Homo sapiens: one gene and its partners. The protein of the gene in region 1 purifies or fractionates together with the protein of each later gene. This does not show direct contact. Each region holds a gene or a part of one and is shown in the gene's direction. Other genes may lie near its edges.

Region 1 (5,495 bases):
GCTTGAACTCAGGAGGCAGAGGTTGCAGTGAGGCGAGATCATGCCACTGTACTCCAGCCTCGGTGACAAAACAAGACTCTGTCTCAAAAAAAAAAAAAAAAACTGATTATTTGTTGCCATCTAGGTATGGGCAGTTTGGTTTGAGAGGTGGTATTTGGGAAACAGTGACCAAAGGTCAGAAAATGAGCCAGAGATGTTCTGGGAGGGCAGGGAAGGTGGGCAGCGCCTAGAGGCAGAGCAGGCCAGGAGGGTGGCGGGAAGGAGGCTGGCAGCTTCTATCAGAGAGGAGCTGGCCCTGCACAGCCTCCATCCTGGTGGGGCCTCTGGCGAGCTATAGCAGTAGCCTCCCATCCTTAATGGCTTTGCCCAGTGGTTTCACCCACGTGCTTCCAAGCCAGCTCTTAATGATGGGAGAGGGAGGGCCTCTGTGGGGGTCTCATGATCTCTGGCACCTTCCCTCGGCCCACAGGTCATCATCATCTGCTTGGTGGTTCTGGATGCCCTCCTGGTGCTTGCTGAGCTCATCCTGGACCTGAAGATCATCCAGCCCGACAAGAATAACTATGCTGCCATGGTAGGGGTTGACAGCTCTTCTGGGGTCTTACTGATATGTTTTGCTTGTGTTATCTGCACAGACGGGGTGCAGAGTGGAGCAGCTGACACCCCACTTGGAGTAGCAAGGTCTGTGGTAGTTTGATAGGTGTTTTCGTCTTCCTTTCCAGAATATGGATTAGCATTTACTACAAGCAGGAAACGTTGTTTCACATGATGGCTGGAATCCTGGGCGATGCTAGGCTAGTGAGCTGGAGCATGTGGGGTGGATCCACTCTGCCATCTCTGGGTCAGGAGGGGCATTCCTCCTGTCTTCTGTTGATGGTCTGCATGGTCCCCTTGCTGGGCCATCAGGGGATCTGCTGTTTATTCACTGATTCAGTTACTGAGCCCATCCCAGATGTTCACCCAAAGGGTGGTGGACATACCCTGTCTCAGTTCCAAGGGCGGAGATCAAGAGAGTTAAAATCATCCCTGGTTGGGCATGGTGGCTCACACCTTTAGTCTCTGCACTTTGGGAGGACAAGGCGGGTGGATCACCTGAGGTCAGGAGTTCGAGACCAGCCTGGCCAACATAATGAAACCAAATCTCTACTAAAAGTACAAAAAAGTAGCTGGGCGTGGTGGCATGCGCCTGTAATCCCAGCTACTCAGGAGGCTGAGGCAGGAGAATCGCTTGAACCCCAGAGGCGGAGGCTGCAGTGAGCCGAGATAGCGCCACTGCACTCCAGCCCGGGCAACAAGAGCAAAACTCCGTCTCCAGGAAAAAAAAAAAAAAAAAAAAGCATTTCCCCCCCATCCCCCGCCATGCCCTTTTTTGGAAAAACAAAATGGAATTGATATGCAAATGTATGTCTTTGCAAGTGGTGAAAACGGCAGAATATGAAACTTCCTCCTTCTTCCTGATACCTTTCCCAGAGGCAGCCCTGTGACATCTCCTATGCCAGCATAGGAGGAGAATCTTCCCTGTCCATCTGTTTTCTCCTAAATAATTGTTTTCATGTTTCTCAGAGACTGGGTCTTGAACCCCAGGGCTCAAGTGATCCACCCACCTCTGCCTCCCAAAGTGCTGGGATTACAGGCGTGCGACACTGCACTTGGCTCTCTTCCTCTATTTTTAATAGAATCCATTAACATACCTGCCATACTTATTGTCTTTTTTTCTCTCAACTTTTTATGAAAAATGGCAAAGACACATTTTGCTGTGTTTGCTTTGTCACTATACATCCCCACGGACGCACACACGCTTCCGTCTGGCCATTTGACTTCACAACCCTTCACTCCTAAATACTTCAACGTGCCTAATAAGGTTTTTCTCCCATGGAGCCATAAGAGCACCATCAGATCTAAAATAAGATCAATAGTCCCACCTAACAACCACTTTTATTCACTCATCCCAAATGTCTCTCTTTATTTTTTTGAGACAGTCTCTATCGCCCAGGCTGGAGTGCAGTGGCACTATCTCATCTCACTGCAACGTCCGCCTCCTGAGTTCAAGCGATTCTCCTGCCTCCAGCTCCAGAGTAACTGGGATTACAGGTGCCCGCCACCACACCCAGCTAATTTTTTTATTTTTAGTAGAGATGAGATTTCACCATGTTGGCCAGGCTGGTATCGAACTCCTGACCTCAAGTGATCTGCCCACTTCGGCCTCCCAAAGTGCTGGGATTACAGGCAAGAGCCACCGTGTCCAGCCCAAGAATGTCTTTAATGGCAGTTTTTTTCAAACTAGGATAGAGAATTCCAATATTCTATTTGGTTATGTCTCCTTGGAATTTTTAATTTTTTTTTTTACTTGAGACAGAGTCTTGCCCTGTCACCCAGGCTGGAGTGCAGGAGCACTTAACAGCTCACTGTAGTCTTGATCTCATGGGCTCAAGCCTTCCTCCCGCCTCAGCCTCCTGAGTAGCTAGAACCACAGACATGCACCACCACACCCAGCTAATTTTTAAATTTTTTGTAGAGACAGGGTTTCCTTGTGTTGCCCAGGCTGGTCTTGAACTCCCAGGCTCAAACAATCCTCCTGTCTTGGCCTCCCAAAGTGCTGGGATTACAGGTGTGAGCCACTGCACCCGGCCTCCCTGGGCTTTCTTAATCTAGAGAAATCCTCCTGCTTTTCTTTTTCCTTCATGACAATGACTCTTGGAAGAGCCCAGCCAGTAGAATGTCCCATGTTCTGGATTTGTCTGATGATTTTGAGGTCTCCTGCCTTGTTTCTTCATTTCCTGCACACCACGGTTAGGTCCAGGGCTTGATCAGCAGGGAGTCTTCATTGGCTGGCGATGTTCTGGATGTGGCATTTTCAGGAGGCACACCACGCCAGGGGTCCCACTCAGTTGGGTCACTTGCTGGACTGCTCCACTGGCCAGGGGCATTTTTCCCGTTGCAGTGGTAAATGATCTGCCTGGTACTGCTTTGGTAGCATGCAAATATCCTCTTCCCCAGTTGGCATCTGTTGGTGAAACTTGCCTGAGTCAGTGACTACACTAGGGAATGCAAAATGGTGATTTTCTGTCTTTCCTTCTACATTTAGTAGTAGGTACTCTTCTATAAAAAAGCACTTCCCTGTTTTCCCATGTGTGTATGTATGTGTGCATGGGTGTATGTGCCGCACTGTGAATTTTTTTATTCACTGTGTTACAATCAATCTTAGTCATTCTTTTCAATGTTCAGATTGTCCCAAATGTTGTCACTGTGAGCCTCTTCAAGTTGACTGCTGGGTCCTGTTGACATGACTCTGTGATGTCTTTGAAGACTTCCTTGCTGGCAAAAGACGTCCTTGCCCACATTGTACCTCCCCTGCCTCAGATCTGGAAATGGTTATCTTGGTGTGAGGACTGGTTATTTTATTTTATATTTTTATTTTTTGAGACAGTCTCACTTGTCACCCAGGCTGGAGTGCAGTGGTGCAATCTCGGCTCACTGCAACCTCTCCTCCGTGTTCAAGCAATTCTCCTGCCTCAGCCTCCCAAATAGCTGGGACTACAGGCATGCACCACCATGCCTAACTTTTTGTATTTTTTTAGTACAGACAGGTTTTCACCATGTTGGCCAACGTGGTCTCAAACTCCGGGCCTCAGGTGATCTGCCCGCCTTGGCCTCCCAAAGTGCTGGGATTACAGGCATGAGCCACTGTGCCCAGCCAGGACTAGATCAAGATCTTGGAACCCTTTTCACTTTACACCACCTTGGTGATCACTCCTAATTGGAACATATGGATCTGCCTCCATTCATTCATTCATTCAGTTATTTTAGAGATGGGGTCTTGCTATGTTGCCCAGACTGGCCTCAAACTGGGCTCTTGGCAGGAGGCCCCACCTAGCCTCCTGAGTAACTGGGACTATTGGCTCGAGCCACCACACCCAGCTTAATCTTTTTAACAAGTGTGTCCTTAGGGCCCCATATGGAGGTGTCACCATTCATTTCAAGAGTAACTTCTAATGGACATTTCTGTCTAATGGACATTTCTGTTGTCTTACAATGCAGAAAGTATTTGTTCTGCAAACAGTGCTGCAGTAAATATCCTTAGTCCCTGTGCACACAGGAGCTCAGCTGTAGGGTAAGTTCTTAGCCATGGAATTGCTGGTCCAAAGGGTCTAGAGGATGCTTTAATTCTGACATTGCCTAATTGCCCTTTAGAGAGCAGGTGCCTCATCTGTGGTGTTCACAGCTGTGTTTCCAGCACTGGGCATCTGGATTTGTCCACCAGAGGAATTCTCTTGCTGGTGACCAGGCAGGTGCATGTGAGGGCAGCTTGACCTCCCAGAGGCCCAATCTCCCCTGACTGTGGTTCCTTGTCCCCTTCAGGTATTCCACTACATGAGCATCACCATCTTGGTCTTTTTTATGATGGAGATCATCTTTAAATTATTTGTCTTCCGCCTGGAGTTCTTTCACCACAAGTTTGAGATCCTGGATGCCGTCGTGGTGGTGGTCTCATTCATCCTCGACATTGTCCTCCTGTTCCAGGAGCACCAGTTTGAGGCTCTGGGCCTGCTGATTCTGCTCCGGCTGTGGCGGGTGGCCCGGATCATCAATGGTACGTCTCCTGCACTCCCAGGCTGTGGATGGAGAGTAGGGGCCCAGGCATACATCCAAGGCCTGACTGCGCAGTCACTCTGGGTGCCTGAGCTCACAGTGGCTCCTGTTATGGAGGCCTCCCCTCTGCCCCCTCACCTCCCTCTCCTCCCTTCTTCCTCTTCAGCCCTTTAGGAGCTGGTTATAAGCAGGTTTACGTCAAGCAAATAAAATGAAACAGGTTGGGTGCAGTGGTCATGCCTGTAATCCCAGCACTTTGGGAGGCTGAGTCAGGAGGATCACTTGAGCCCAGGAGTTCGAGACCAACCTGGGCAACATGGTGAAACCCCCATCTCTACAAAACAAAAAATACAAACATCAGTTGGGTGTGGTGGTGCACACATGTAGTCCCAGCCACTGGGGAGGCTGAGGTGGGAGGATTGCTTGAGCCCAGGATTTGGAGGCTGCAATAAGCCAAGATTGTGCACTGCACTCTAGCCTGGGTGACAGAGCCAGACCCCATCTCAAAAAAAAAAAAAAAAACTGGACTCTTGTCAAAGGAAAGAAAAAAAAGCCTTTCAGTTCCTACAGAAGATGCCTGTTATGGGGAAAGGGGGCATTTCCCAGCCTGTGCTTTCGTGGCATCTATGGACACCGCTGTTGTGCACCCACATGATTGTGAACAGGTTCTAGGTTAAGAATCCTAATGCTCATCTTGTCAGTGATTATTTTTAAGGATTTCTCAGCCATGCCAGCTAAAGAGAGATACTGTGTAACTGGGTACTAAGTAGCTCAGACACAAAACCCTGACCTCCCAGTTCTGATGCCCTAAAGTGATGACTGTCTCGCGTGTCTGTCACCACTCCTCCAAACTCTATACAGGTGTAAGAATACAGATTTTTTTCCTGAGTGGTTAAGTTAGAAAC
Region 2 (4,284 bases), on another chromosome or scaffold:
TATTTGATACTAAACACATGCAGCTATTTTAATTTAAATTAATTAAATAAAATGGAAAATTCAGATCCTCAGGTACTCAGTTACTATATGTGACTACCATCTTGGACAGTGCAGATACAGAACAGTTCCATAGTCACAAAAAGTTCTATTGGACAGCGCTGTTCTACAGCAACCTTTTCCTAGAATCTTGCTTGGATTGTTCCCCCTCCCTGGACGCTTTGGGAACCTCCCTGTTTTCTGTGACATTAGGTCCAAATTGCTCCCTGAACTTCCAGGCCTTCTGTGAACTGTTGCCATTGCTATGTGCCCTATCTGCCTTTATATTTCTTGTGCTCTCTCTTAGGCCGTTTGCCTTACTGCCCTATAGACATGCTGTGCCTGACTGAGACTCTACCTAACAATGAGGGGTTGAGGGCAGTAGCTGAGTCTTGGTCAGCTTTAGGGTCTGGTTCAGGGCCTGGTGTACCTTGTAGGCACTCCCTCTGTAAATATTTTGAATATTTTCTCTTGCTTAGAATAATCTGCAGCTGGCCAGGCACAGTGGCTCACGCCTGTAATCCCAGCACTTTGGGAGGCCGAGGTGGATAGATCACGAGGCCAAGAGTTCGAGACCAGCCTGACCAACATGGTGAAACCCCGTCTCTACTGAAAAAAAAAAAAAAAAAAATTAGCCCGGCATGGTGGTGGGCGCCTGTAGTCCCAGCTACTCGGGAGGCTGAGGCAGGAGAATGGCATGAACCCAGGAGGTGGAGCTTGCAGTGAGCTGAGATCACGCTACTGCACTCCAGCCTGGGTGACAGAGCGAGACTCCATCTCAAAAAAAAAAAAAAAAATCTGCAGCTTTCCAAATCTTCCCAATTTTTTTTTTTTTTTTTTTTTTTTGAGACAGAGTCTCACTCTGTTGCCAGGCTGGAGTGCAGTGGCACAATCTCAGCTTACTGCAACCTCCACCTCCCGGGTTTAAGGGATTCTCCTGCCTCAGCCTCCTGAGTAGCTGGGACTAGAGGCAGGCGCCACCATGCTTGACTAATTTTTTTTGTATTTTTCGTAGAGACAGGGTTTCACCACGTTGCCCAGGATGGTCTCGATCTCTTGACCTCGTGATCCACCCACCTCGGCCTCCCAAAGTGCTGGGATTACAGGCGTGAGCCACCACACCCGCTAAATCCTCCCAATTCTTAAAGGCCTACTTCTTCAGAAAGGTTTCCCTGACCTCTCTGGATCGCTTGTGTTTTTACTGTGAATTTCCACACCCATCCATCTATTCATTATCCATTTAACAGGTAGCTTTTGAGTGTCTACCATGTGTGATACATGGGAATATATTGGTGAATAAAACAAACACGGTCTGGCTCTTTCCCACTAGAGCTTACCTTCTAATTGAGAGACATAGTAAACAAGTAGCAGATAAGCAGTAAATATCTAACTACAGTAGAGTGCAGTGAGAGAGAACAACAGGGGGAATGACTTGATGTGGACCAGGAAGATCTCTCTGAGGAGTTGTCATAAAAGCTAAGACTGTAGAACAAGGAGGCAGCCATGTAGAGTGTAGCTGAGTCTCACTGTGCAGCTTGGCATGTGTTCATTCTCCGGGATTTTACTCTGTGCTGCTGTTAGATGTGCACTGATTTTGTCCCTTCAGCTAGATTGCAAGTTCCCTGAGAGCTCAGACCATATTGCTGTGACTCTTGTGTTCCTAGCATCATGCTGAGCACATAGTGATGTCAAATCAATCTTCACTGAGTGGAACTCTGCCACTTTAAACCCTTAATCAGAACTAGAACCCTCCAAAGCTGAAACAATCCCCTTGGCTTCCTCTCAGTTACTCTAGACCTAGGTGTCTTAATTTCTGAAGGATGCTTCATTGTGTCACGAGGGAAAACAAGTAGGCACCCGATTAGATTGGGGGGAAATTATGCTGTGCCCTCATGTTTGGTTCCCAGGACCCTTCTTCCAGTTCTGCTTTCTTAGTTTGAAATGTGCACCCTCAGATTAGTCTCTCATTTGTTTTCACTGCCTTACACTAGCAGTGTGGTGGGAAGAAGGCTGAAGTTGTGTTCGTTGATTTATTCAGCTATTCTTTTTTTTTTTCCTAAGACAGGGTCTCACTCTGTTGCCCAGGCTGGAGTGCAGCAGTGTGATCACAGCTCACTGTATCCTCAACCTCCCCAGGCCCAGGTGATCATCCCACCTCATCCTCCCGAGTAGCTGGGACTACACTTGTGTGCCACCATGCCTGGCTAATTTTTATATTTTTTTGTGGAAACAGTTTCGCCATGTTGTCCAGGCTGGTCTTGAACTCCTGGGCTCAAGTGATCCACCCAGCTTGGACTCCCAAAGTGCTGGGTATTCAGCCATTCTGATTGCTCTCCCACTCTATGCCAGGTTCTGTATTCTGACTAGAGTGGGTCAGTCATCATCCCCCACCTCATCAATGCATGCTGGTTCTAGTTCAGCCATCAGTTAGCTAGCCTCTAAGCCTCAGTTTACTTATCTTTCAAATGGGGATATAGGCCAGGTGCGGTGGCTCACGCCTGTAATCCCAGCACTTGGGAGGCCGAAGCAGGCAGATCACTTGAGGTCAGGAGTTCGAGACCACCCTGGCCAACATGGTGAAACCCTGTCTCTACTAAAAATACAAAAAATTAGCCGGGTGTGATGGCACATGCCCGTAGTCCCAGCTACTTGGGAGGCTGAGGCAAGAGAATCACTTGAACTTGGGAGGCAGAGGTTGCATTGAGCCAAGATCATGCCACTGCACTTCAGCCTGGGTGACAGAGTGAGACTTCATCTCAAAACAAAACAAAACAAAGCAAAGCAAATGGGAATATAATATCTATTCTACTTGGCAAACATAATCATTAGGAGCTAGGCGTGTGAGGGAACCCTAACAGTCTGAAACAGTTGGGTTGTTCTCACTATTAGTGGGTCCTGAGTCATCCTTTTCCTTCTGATGGCTCAGGAATTCCTGATTATGAATTTGCCCCTTCCCAGCCATCTCACCCGCTGCTAAAGTTGCCTGTTTTCCCATCCTGGGCTCTGCCCATTCTCCAGGTCCCCATAACACGCGCTCCCAATCCCATTCCTTTCTGCACAGCACATGTGGGTTGCTGCCAGCAGCGCTCTGGCATGTGCCCAGGCACAGCAGACACAGGCACGCTGTTGTGCTAGCAAATCGTTTGCAGAAGGGTGATGTGCCTGAGCTTGTCCTCTGCTCCTGTCCCCATGTGCCAGAAAAAGCCAGTTTTCCTGACTCAGCCATTGTGCCAGGACAGTCCTAAGCTGTGGAACCGTAAGGAGGGTTTATCAGAGAGCATTTGGAACAGGTGGAATGTTTTTCTACCAAACTGTCAGCACCCCATACTGGACATGGCCCTTGTTGGCAGCAGGCCTGGAGCCAGACCTCACATACCACAATGCCCAAGAGGACAGACCACAATAAAATGTCGAATAAAGTGATCCTGGGTCTTTGGGTAATGTTTACCACTTACAGAGCCATTCATGGCCAGTATCTCTTAATTCTCACAGCAACTCTGTGGGATAGGTATTATTAGGCTTGTTTGACTCATGAAAAACTGAGGCTCAGGAATGGCTAATAGCTTCTTAAAGGCCGCATGGCCATCAAGTGACACAGCTGGCATTCGAACTCTGTGCTCTGGCTCCCAGACCCCACGGTTTTGACTGTATCCCCGCTGTCTGCCAAAGCATGCTCCTAATCTTTGTATCCAACAGATTACACTTAACAAATAGTTCAAGAATGCTATAAGTAGAGCAGGTAACTTCATCTGTTTTGAAGAAGTAGAAGATTGAGACTTTGGTTTAGTCAGCTGCCACCATCACTGATCTTGGCAGAGGTGGAATTAGGACTTGATCTCCCTTCTAACTCCAAGTCAGCACATCGATTCCACACACTACCTTGGCACCTGGACAGAGCAACTTCTCAGGGCCTGTTCCATCAGCCACCTTCACCCCAGGAAGCAAGACTCTCAGCCCTCCCTCCTCTAGAGGTCCAAGCTAGAAAATGTCCTTAGCTGGTGGCTGGGGCTCTTATTTTGCTCTGTAATCTTTAAGCTTCCCAACAGAAGTCTCCTCTGCCAAAAGAGGCAGCGTTAGGCACACACACACATGCAAGCTCTGAGCCTGGCCCTCTGTGGCCCCAGCAATCCTGCTGAACATCCTGTTCCCCTACTTAGGGAGAGGCTGGGCCCAGAGTTGGGTAAGAGTGAAGACAAGGTAGCTGGCTCCCTTCCCCCAAGGACCAGTTGCCTTGCCTTGGTCCTTGGA
Region 3 (4,284 bases), on another chromosome or scaffold:
GATGGAAGTGCTCGCAGGAGGTGCTTCCTTATCTTCGTGTATGTCATGACATCTGTCCTTTTCTTGAGGCCCAGAACACACATTCTCCCATCCTTTCCCAGCCAGGCAACCCAATGGATACCAGCCTCACTTTCCCGTATTTTTCCTGACTGGTTCCCAGAGTACAAAGCACAGGACAACTTCGCTAACTCACCCTGATCTTTGACCTATACTCTGGGTATAAATCTGCCTGTACCTTACCCTTGAGATGTCCTGCTCTAGGGGATGATGCCTGAAGGGAAACATTTGATGAATCACAGTAATTGAGGCTCCGATTTCTGTGTCCTGGTAGAACCATGTGATAGTGAACCAAAACATGACCATTGATTCCTTTTCCCATATTCTGATCTTACCTGGAAACCCGTGCTCTCAGATTTTGTGGGGTTATCTGGCAGATAGACGGTGACAACAGTCCCATCTGGTGAAGGCTTAGGATATTAGGATGTTTCTTACTTCTTATTGTTTGAAGAAACAGTTGTGAATAAAAATTAATCAAAATTAGAGGCCAGGCACAGTGGCTTACACCTGTAATGCCAGCACTTTGCGAGGCCGAGGCGGGCGAATCATCTGAGGTTGGGAGTTTGACACCAGACTGGCCAACATGGTAAAACCCCTTCTCTACTAAAAGAAAAATACAAAAAAAAAAAAAAAGTAGCCAGGTGCGGTCGCACATGTCTGTAATCCCAACTACGTGGAAGGCTGAGGCACAAGAATTGCTTGAACCTGGGAGGCAGAGGTCGCAGTGAGCTGAGATCGCACCACTGCACTCCAGTCTGGCCAACAGAACGAGACTCTGTCTCAAAAATAAATTAATTAATCAAAATTAATTGTCCAGCTTTGATTTAGAATCTTAACTGCTATTACACGTCTCTTCTGTCTACCTTCAAATAGGTCATCTAATACATGGGAGAAACATGGATTTTGGAGTATTTCTTGGGTAAGTAAAGAACAAAGGGTCAGGCATGGTGGTTCACGCCTGTAATCCCAGCTTTTTGGGAGGCTGACACGGGTGGATCACGAGGTCAGGAGTTCAAGACCAGCCTGGCCAAGATGGTGAAACCCCGTCTCTACTAAAAACATAAAAATTAGCCAGGCATGGTGGTGGGCATCTGTAATCCCGGCTACTTGGGAGCCTGAGGCAGAGACTTTTTTGAACCTGCGAGGCGGAGGTTGCAGTGAGCCGAGATCGCGCCACTGCACTGCAGCTTGGGATACAGAGCCAGACTCCATCTCAAAAAAAAAAAAAAAAAAAAGAACACAGAACTGTTTTGGTCTGTAGGAAGAGTAGGTTGTGTTATATTGATGATAAGTAAGTCCCAAGTCACACCCAAAATGTGATCATAAGTGAAGATAAATGGATTGCTTGAGTGCTGAGACAAGAGGGACATGCTCTTCTATTTTATGTGTCCATCTTGACCTTTCTGAAAAAATAAGAATATTGTAATTAGCATTCTATGTTTGAATCTGAGGCTCACTATTTATAAGCTGTGTGATATTGAGAGAGTTACCTGACTTCTCTGAACCTCAATTTTATCATTTGGAAAACAGAATAAATATACCATATTGTAAAGGTCTTGTTAGGATTGATCGTGGTGACTCGGTAAATAAAGCTCCTAGTGTAATGCCTGGCCCTCATCATCATGTTGATCATTACTATCACTGTGTTTCTGAAATGTCACTGAAACATGTCTTTTATAGGTGGAACATAAATAATGATACCTGGGTCATAACTGAGCAACTAAAACCTTTAACAGTGAATTTGGATTTCCAAAGAAACAACAAAACTGTCTTCAAGGCTTCAAGCTTTGCTGGCTATGTGGGCATGTTAACAGGATTCAAACCAGTAAGGAGTCTGTTGTTACATAATTATACAGGTAGCCTTCTGTCCTGTTACCGTTATGTAAAAGTTGAAATCTAAGAATATGAGGACCTAAAGGGAATATGAAGCCCCATTTCACCCCCTTGTACTTCTTGTCACTTCATAGGTATGAGATCTCGTGGTAGAGAAGAGTAGAAAGGAAACGGAGGTTTCTGAGCCTCTTCTGGGATAAAGAGCATGTGGCTGGGTGTCAAGGGCTGGGAGTCACAATCTGATTTCTAGTCCTGGGTCTTCCGCTCACTTAGGCAAGTCAGGCGTTCATTCTCTGCCCTTCAGTTTCCTGTCCAAAAAGCGTTGCCAGTGATACCCCACCTACTTATCTCACATACTAGAATCAAAAATGCTTTGAACTTTTTAAAAAGCCTTTTATGGTTTTGATTTATTTTTGCCTTCCCCATTACCCAAGCTAGGCCTTTATATCCCACTCTGAAGTACAGTGAGCGACAGGGCCTTAAAGCGCATGGTTGATGTTTCTGACTTCGTTGCTTTGTCTTTTTCTCAGGGACTGTTCAGTCTTACACTGAATGAACGTTTCAGTATAAATGGTGGTTATCTGGGTAAGTAGAGCATTCTCAAGTGAAATGGGAATCTCAGAGCTTTTTTATGAGGAAGGCTGGACTGTGCCTTCTGGTTACAAAGTCCAACCTCTTCCGGTTCCCGACTGGTTACAAAGTCTAACCTCTTCTGGTTCCTGACTGGTTATATAGTCCAGCCTCTTCCGGGTCCTGACTGGTTACATAGTGTCACCTCTTCCGGTTCCTGACATTGTGTTCATCTCTTCCAGGTATTCTAGAATGGATTCTGGGAAAGAAAGATGTCATGTGGATAGGGTTCCTCACTAGAACAGTTCTGGAAAATAGCACAAGGTAAAGTGTTTCGTTGCTTTACTATTAAATATTTATTTTAAATTACTCATATTAAAAAATAAAAATATTTGTCAAGCTCCAGCTTAATCCTTTGAGGAACTATTGCAGAATTTCTTAGGTGAACCTCTGACACTCATGTGGAATTACTCATGTTTTCTTCGTGCAGACTGTGTGTTTTATAGCAAATAAATGAATTACTTAAAAAGCACTAGGGATACTGACATTATGAAAGGCACCTATGAATATTTTTGGTGTACAGAAAAAAAATGACCCACACACAAAAGAACAGTCATACAGTAAAATCTTCATTTAAATGGTAGTACAGACCAGGCACAGTGGCTTATGCCTGTAATCCTCACGCTTTGGGTGGCTGAGATAGACAGATGACTTGCACCCAGGGGTTTGAGACCAGTCTGAGCAACATGGCGAAACCCCGTCTCTATAAAAAATACAAAAATTAGCCAGGCATGGTGACACGTGCCTGCCTGTAGTCCCAGCTACTCAGGAGGCTGAGGTGGGAGGATCACCTGAGCCCAAGGAGGTCGAGACTGCAGTGAGCTGGGATCAGTCCACTGCACTTCACCCTGAGTGATAGAGTGAGACTCTGTCTTAAAAAAACAAAATAAATAAATACAAAATGTACTACATATTAACCTGTAAGTTATATCTTGCCTTGGTATAGAAATCTTACAATAGCAAAACTGCCTTTCCTTCATTCAGCCAGCACTGCGTCCAAATAAATGGGCATCAATCCTATTTTTAATACTTCCCAGGGAATAAGATTTAATGTTAGTAGTGTTCTTTGATAACCCACTTCAATTTTTAATAGTCCTAATTTTCAAGAAGGTTTACTTTCTGTTCTCTAAGTCCTACATACTGTAATATTATTTCCCTTTGTTCTGTTGTTGAGTGAAAGGCATGGACAGTAAGGGTGGAAGATGATCTCTTGAGGCCACTTTGTTTCTCCTTCAGATTAGAGGGGCTTCCTAAGATTCCCGCTTCCCATCTCAGTGTTCACCATACAGGGTCAGGGATTGCTTTTCCCAGAGGCATTGCTCACCATCCTTTTTTAGAAAACACATTGTGGCTGGCCATGGTGGCTCATGCCTGTAATCCCAGTACTTTGGGAGGCGAAGGCAAGAGTATCGCTTGTGCCAAGGAGTTCGAGACCAGCCTGGGCAACAGAGTGAGAGCCCATCTCTAAAAATAGAAATAAATAAATAACACATTCCTTAGATACTTGTTTTTCTTTAGTTTCTACAGAGCTAAACATTTCCGTTCTAAGTCATCTAAAAATGTTTCCCACCATCATCCTCAGCAAACTAACACAGGAACAGAAAACCGAACACTGCATGTTCTCACTCATAAGTGAGAGCTGAACAAAGAGAACACGTGAACACAGGGAGGGGAACATCACGCACCAGGGCCTGTCAGGGGGTGGGGTGAAAGGGGAGGGAGAGCATTAGGACAAATACCTAATGCATGTAGGGCTTGAAACTT
Region 4 (4,284 bases), on another chromosome or scaffold:
CTATTTTTTTCCCAGAGGTTTTGAAGAGCCTGAAGAAGTTTTTCTTCTCCCCTCCTCCCTCCTCCCCCATCCCCTTTCCCCTCTCCCCTCTCCCTTCTCCTCCTCTTCTTCTTCCAGAACCAATGAAATGAAGTAATAAATCATCTTCCTTGACCTGTATGCAAGGCAGAGCTCCTTAATTTTAGAATTATCCTTCTTTAATATGACATTGCTATGAGTATATATTTCCTTATCTAAATAAACATATATTAGTGGCTAAACAAATTAAAACCAAGTCACCATATTAAATAAGAAGTTTAAATAAAAATCATAGATGTGAATATACACATTGCTTTTCAACCGTAAAGTAAGTTTTGCTCATCCTACTATAATCCTTTAATACAACAGTTTTCAGTTTTTCTAAGGTAAACTTTTTATTGAAATGAAGCATTCATATAGAAAACTGTTATCATAAGTATACAGTTGGATGACTTTTCATAAAGTAAATGCTCCCTGTAACCACCTCACAGACTAAGAAACAGACATTTTGGGACCCTAGAAATCCCCCTTGTGGCCCTTCCAGTCCCTAAATCCCCCTGCTTCAGGGTAACCATGATTCTCACTTCTGATGCTATTAGTTTTGCTTGTTTCTTTTTAACTTTATATTACATAAAACCATAGAGTATGTTCTCTTTTGTGTGTGGTTTCTTGGGATTAAGTGTTATGCTTGTCAAATTCATCCTCATTGTTTTGTAGTATTCCATGATATGAATATACTACAATTTGTCTACTGACTGTTGATGGATATTTGGATAGTTTCCGGTTTGGGGCTAATATGGCTAGTGCTGCTATGAACATTCGTTTATGTATATTTTGGTGAGTGCATGTACAGAATAGAAGACTGCCAGATACTGAAGGGTTTGGGAGTTGGGTTGGCATGTGCCAGGATCCTTCCCATTCCTAATTGATAATGTGGCACTAAAGGAAATGAGGGTTCTGGCAGTCTGTATCATGCCATATGCAATGAGTAGAATGGTCCCAAGTCAATTCAGTTGGAGCCGGCTGACATGGCTCAGTTGCAAGTGAAAACTGTCTGAGATGTACACAACCTTCCTTAGTTCTAGGGGCACAGACTGTGGATGACCAAAGAAGCCCAGATCATCCAGAAATATGTCACCTTCAAACAGAGACAAGTAAAGAATGAATTTTGGTGGAGTTATCTGTTAGTCCAAATTCAGAATCCCAGAAATTCTTTGTGTTTTTGAAACTGGGGTCATTTTTTCCCTTAAAGTTCTGTTTGTTATGGAGATATATTCCAAGAAAGAGATTTTACAGGTGGAGTTTCTAGATTTCTCTTTTATGAAAATGTCCTGTTTGGGAGAAATGTTCTCCATCACTCCTGCAGTTTTTCAGCTTTGTGCAAAGCTGTCTTTCTCTGACCACACCAGCCACAGTCTTTCCCCACTTTGAACTCCTATAGCATTTGTTTTGTATATGATCTCCCAAGTTTTTTGCCTTGGATTATTATTAGCTTTGGTCATATGCCTAATGACATTGTAAGCCATGTTTAGAGACAAGAACTGTGCATGTTTTGCTCCTTTATACTTCCCAGGGCTTTGTCTGTAGAAGGCACTTAGTAAATATTTATCGATCTCTCTGTGAATTCTGGAAACTTTACTTTGGTATATTTAACATAGTTTACAGAGTTTTTATTGGCCGTAGGCTGTGGGGAGTAGTTAAAAAATAATTTTAAAGATAAGTGCTGTTTCTCTGAGTGGGCCTGGTAAGATAGCATATATAATACTTAAAATGATATAAGAAAATTGGGAAAGAACTGCATTCAGCTTTGGCAAAAATTAGAAGAGCTAAAGATGCTGATGGTGAACTAGAAGTAGAGGGTGGGGGTGGGTAAGTGATTAGAAAAGAGGCTCCCTCCCATAACACATTAATTTTTCAGCAAAAATATTGGATTTACAGCATTTCTCAGAGTACTCCATTAGCTGCTAAAAGTCCTGGTGAGTCATCCATTACTTTGGGTTCTGCCTATTGGTTTTGAAGCAACTGTATTAATGGAAGCTCTCTGACATGGTGAGTTCTCAGTAAAGTTCTTTGAAATGGATTTTCACACTTCACTTTCCTCTTATTGGGCTTTTCTCTTGTTTGCAGTCCTGAGAAAGCAGGTCTTGTTAAAGATGAGTGCTTCCTCCTGAGGGCCTAAGAGCCAGAGCAAAACATCAGCCACAAACCCTAAGCTGGAAAGTGGCCCCAGTCTTCAGAAGCTTAGATTATTTCTTGGCAGTAGATGGATGGGGAAGGGGCCTGGAGACCAAATCCGCGCCTGAGTTAGGATTTTAGAGATTAAGTGAAGAAATACAGCTACACCTTAAAACTTTTCTTCTTTCCACAGTAATGGTCTTCCAAAGCAATAACATTAAAACAATTTTTTCAAATTTACACGCAGTAATACCACTTTTTTTTTTTTCTTTGAGACTGAGTCTTGCTCTGTCACCCAGGCTGGAGTGCAGTGGTGTGACCCTGGCTTATCGCAACCTCTGCCTCCTGGGTTCAAGCAATTCTCCTGCCTCAGCCTCCCAGGTAGCTGGGACTACAGGCGTGTGCCACCACATTCAGCTAATTTTTGTATTTTTAGTAGAGATGGGGTTTCACCATGTTGGCCAGGCTGGTCTTGAACTCCTGACTTCAGGTGATCCACCTGCCTTGGCCTCCCAAAGTGCTGGGATTATAGGCATGAGCCACCATGCTCGGCTTGTTTCCAGTTTGGTATGATTATGAATAAAGCTGCTATAAACCTTTGCATATAGGTTCTGTGTGAGTATACATTTTTATTTCTCTTGGGTAAATATCCAGGAATGGGATTGCTGGGTTGTAAAGTAACCATACGGTTAACTCTGTAAGAAACTGCCAAACTGTTTTCTAAAGTGGTTGTACCAATTTGCATTTCCATCTAAAAGCAGTAACATTTTAAACCAAAGTAAGTTTATTTAGTCACTTTGTCTAAGTGCATTCTAGTCTAGTAGTGTCAGGATGTATCAGTTCTTCATTCCTCTGTGCCCTAAATTCAGAGATGTTTATATCACCTGAAATGGGTTAGTGGTTTCCTTCACATGTACCCTGTGAAATCATGGACTGAGGGAACATCATAGAGAGCTGTAATCTGGCGTGTGTCACTGAGGCCACTCACTATTCACAGTAGGCACACAGTCAGTGAATGGGGTGGGTAGAGGTAGCAGGAAGGGTGAGACAAAACCGAGTGTAGATTCACTAGCTAAAAAAAAACCTAGTTTTTTTTTTTTTTTTTCAAGTTGCTGAGCTTTCCTGGGCATGAGTTTTCTTGTATTGAAAGTGCAGATAATAATTACTTACCTCACAGGGTCATTTGGATGAAATGAAATGAAGTGGTGAGAGAGTGTCTGGCACAGAGAAAATGCTCAATAGGCGCTGATTACCTCCTATGTCTCCTGTTCCCTTGGTGACCTTCCTCATGTCAACATTAGCTTTGGCCCCACAAATTAGTGCCCCTTCTGGCTATCCCCTGAAAACCCTTCTTGCATTACCATTTCTTAGGCATTTGTTCACCCCATTCTCCTGGTTGGAATACCCACTGTTTTCATCTATTTCTGGTATTTCTAACTATCCTTGAAGGCAAAACTCATATTTCATTTAGCTCTAGACTACGTTAGCTGTTCCTTTGTGATCATGCATGTTTGTGTGTGCGTGTGCGTGTGTATATCTTCCCATGTAGCTTTTTCTTTTTCTTTTTTTAATTAAATTTTTGTCTCCTTTACTGTAGTTGTGTAATTGCTTAGTAAATGTATCTTGACTGAAGGTTTTTTTTCCCCCTTTCCCTGCCTGAAATCACGACTCCATAAATGCCAATTTCTGCATTTCTGTAAATAACTTGGGTATCACTGGAGACTTCCCTCTGCCTCACCTGTGCTTGTCTGGCCCGACTCCCCTATTTAATGATGTTTTCCATTCTCAGCTCTTCTTCCCATTCACAGTTGGAAACCTCCCCCTACCTTTGATTTCCCTTTAGTCCTTACCTCTAAATCATCGTGGTGATTTAGAGGGTGAACTCACTGGAATGGGGATGCTTGCATGTGTAATCTTACTAAGAGCTAATAGAAAGGCTAGGACCAAACCTATTTGTTTATGGGGTGATGTGAGCCCGTCTAAACAGTTTCCCACCTGTGTCTACTTATGTAAAAAAAAGCAAAAACAAATTGCCTACTCCCTAATGGTTTCTCTTGAGTTCAAAAAAATAAAGCCCCTTGACAGATCCAG

Evidence for each region. The genes of interacting proteins can lie anywhere in the genome.
Region 2: the proteins of HVCN1 (region 1) and UQCC1 purify together in Homo sapiens (affinity purification with mass spectrometry; one large-scale study listed by BioGRID and IntAct). This does not show direct contact.
Region 3: the proteins of HVCN1 (region 1) and ASAH1 purify together in Homo sapiens (affinity purification with mass spectrometry; one large-scale study listed by BioGRID and IntAct). This does not show direct contact.
Region 4: the proteins of HVCN1 (region 1) and KIF5C purify together in Homo sapiens (affinity purification with mass spectrometry; one large-scale study listed by BioGRID and IntAct). This does not show direct contact.

The regions. Positions count from the first base shown.
Region 1 is NC_000012.12:110,650,313-110,655,807, reverse strand, and holds part of HVCN1 (voltage-gated hydrogen channel 1), read left to right. Parts: intron 1-469; coding exon 470-574; intron 575-4,359; coding exon 4,360-4,591; intron 4,592-5,495.
Region 2 is NC_000020.11:35,307,243-35,311,526, reverse strand, and holds part of UQCC1 (ubiquinol-cytochrome c reductase complex assembly factor 1), read left to right. Parts: intron 1-4,284. UniProt on the Homo sapiens protein: Required for the assembly of the ubiquinol-cytochrome c reductase complex (mitochondrial respiratory chain complex III or cytochrome b-c1 complex). Involved in cytochrome b translation and/or stability.
Region 3 is NC_000008.11:18,059,877-18,064,160, reverse strand, and holds part of ASAH1 (acid ceramidase isoform a preproprotein), read left to right. Parts: intron 1-930; coding exon 931-976; intron 977-1,737; coding exon 1,738-1,882; intron 1,883-2,420; coding exon 2,421-2,475; intron 2,476-2,702; coding exon 2,703-2,784; intron 2,785-4,284. UniProt on the Homo sapiens protein: Lysosomal ceramidase that hydrolyzes sphingolipid ceramides into sphingosine and free fatty acids at acidic pH.
Region 4 is NC_000002.12:148,877,674-148,881,957, forward strand, and holds part of KIF5C (kinesin heavy chain), read left to right. Parts: intron 1-4,284. UniProt on the Homo sapiens protein: Microtubule-associated force-producing protein that may play a role in organelle transport. Has ATPase activity. Involved in synaptic transmission. Mediates dendritic trafficking of mRNAs.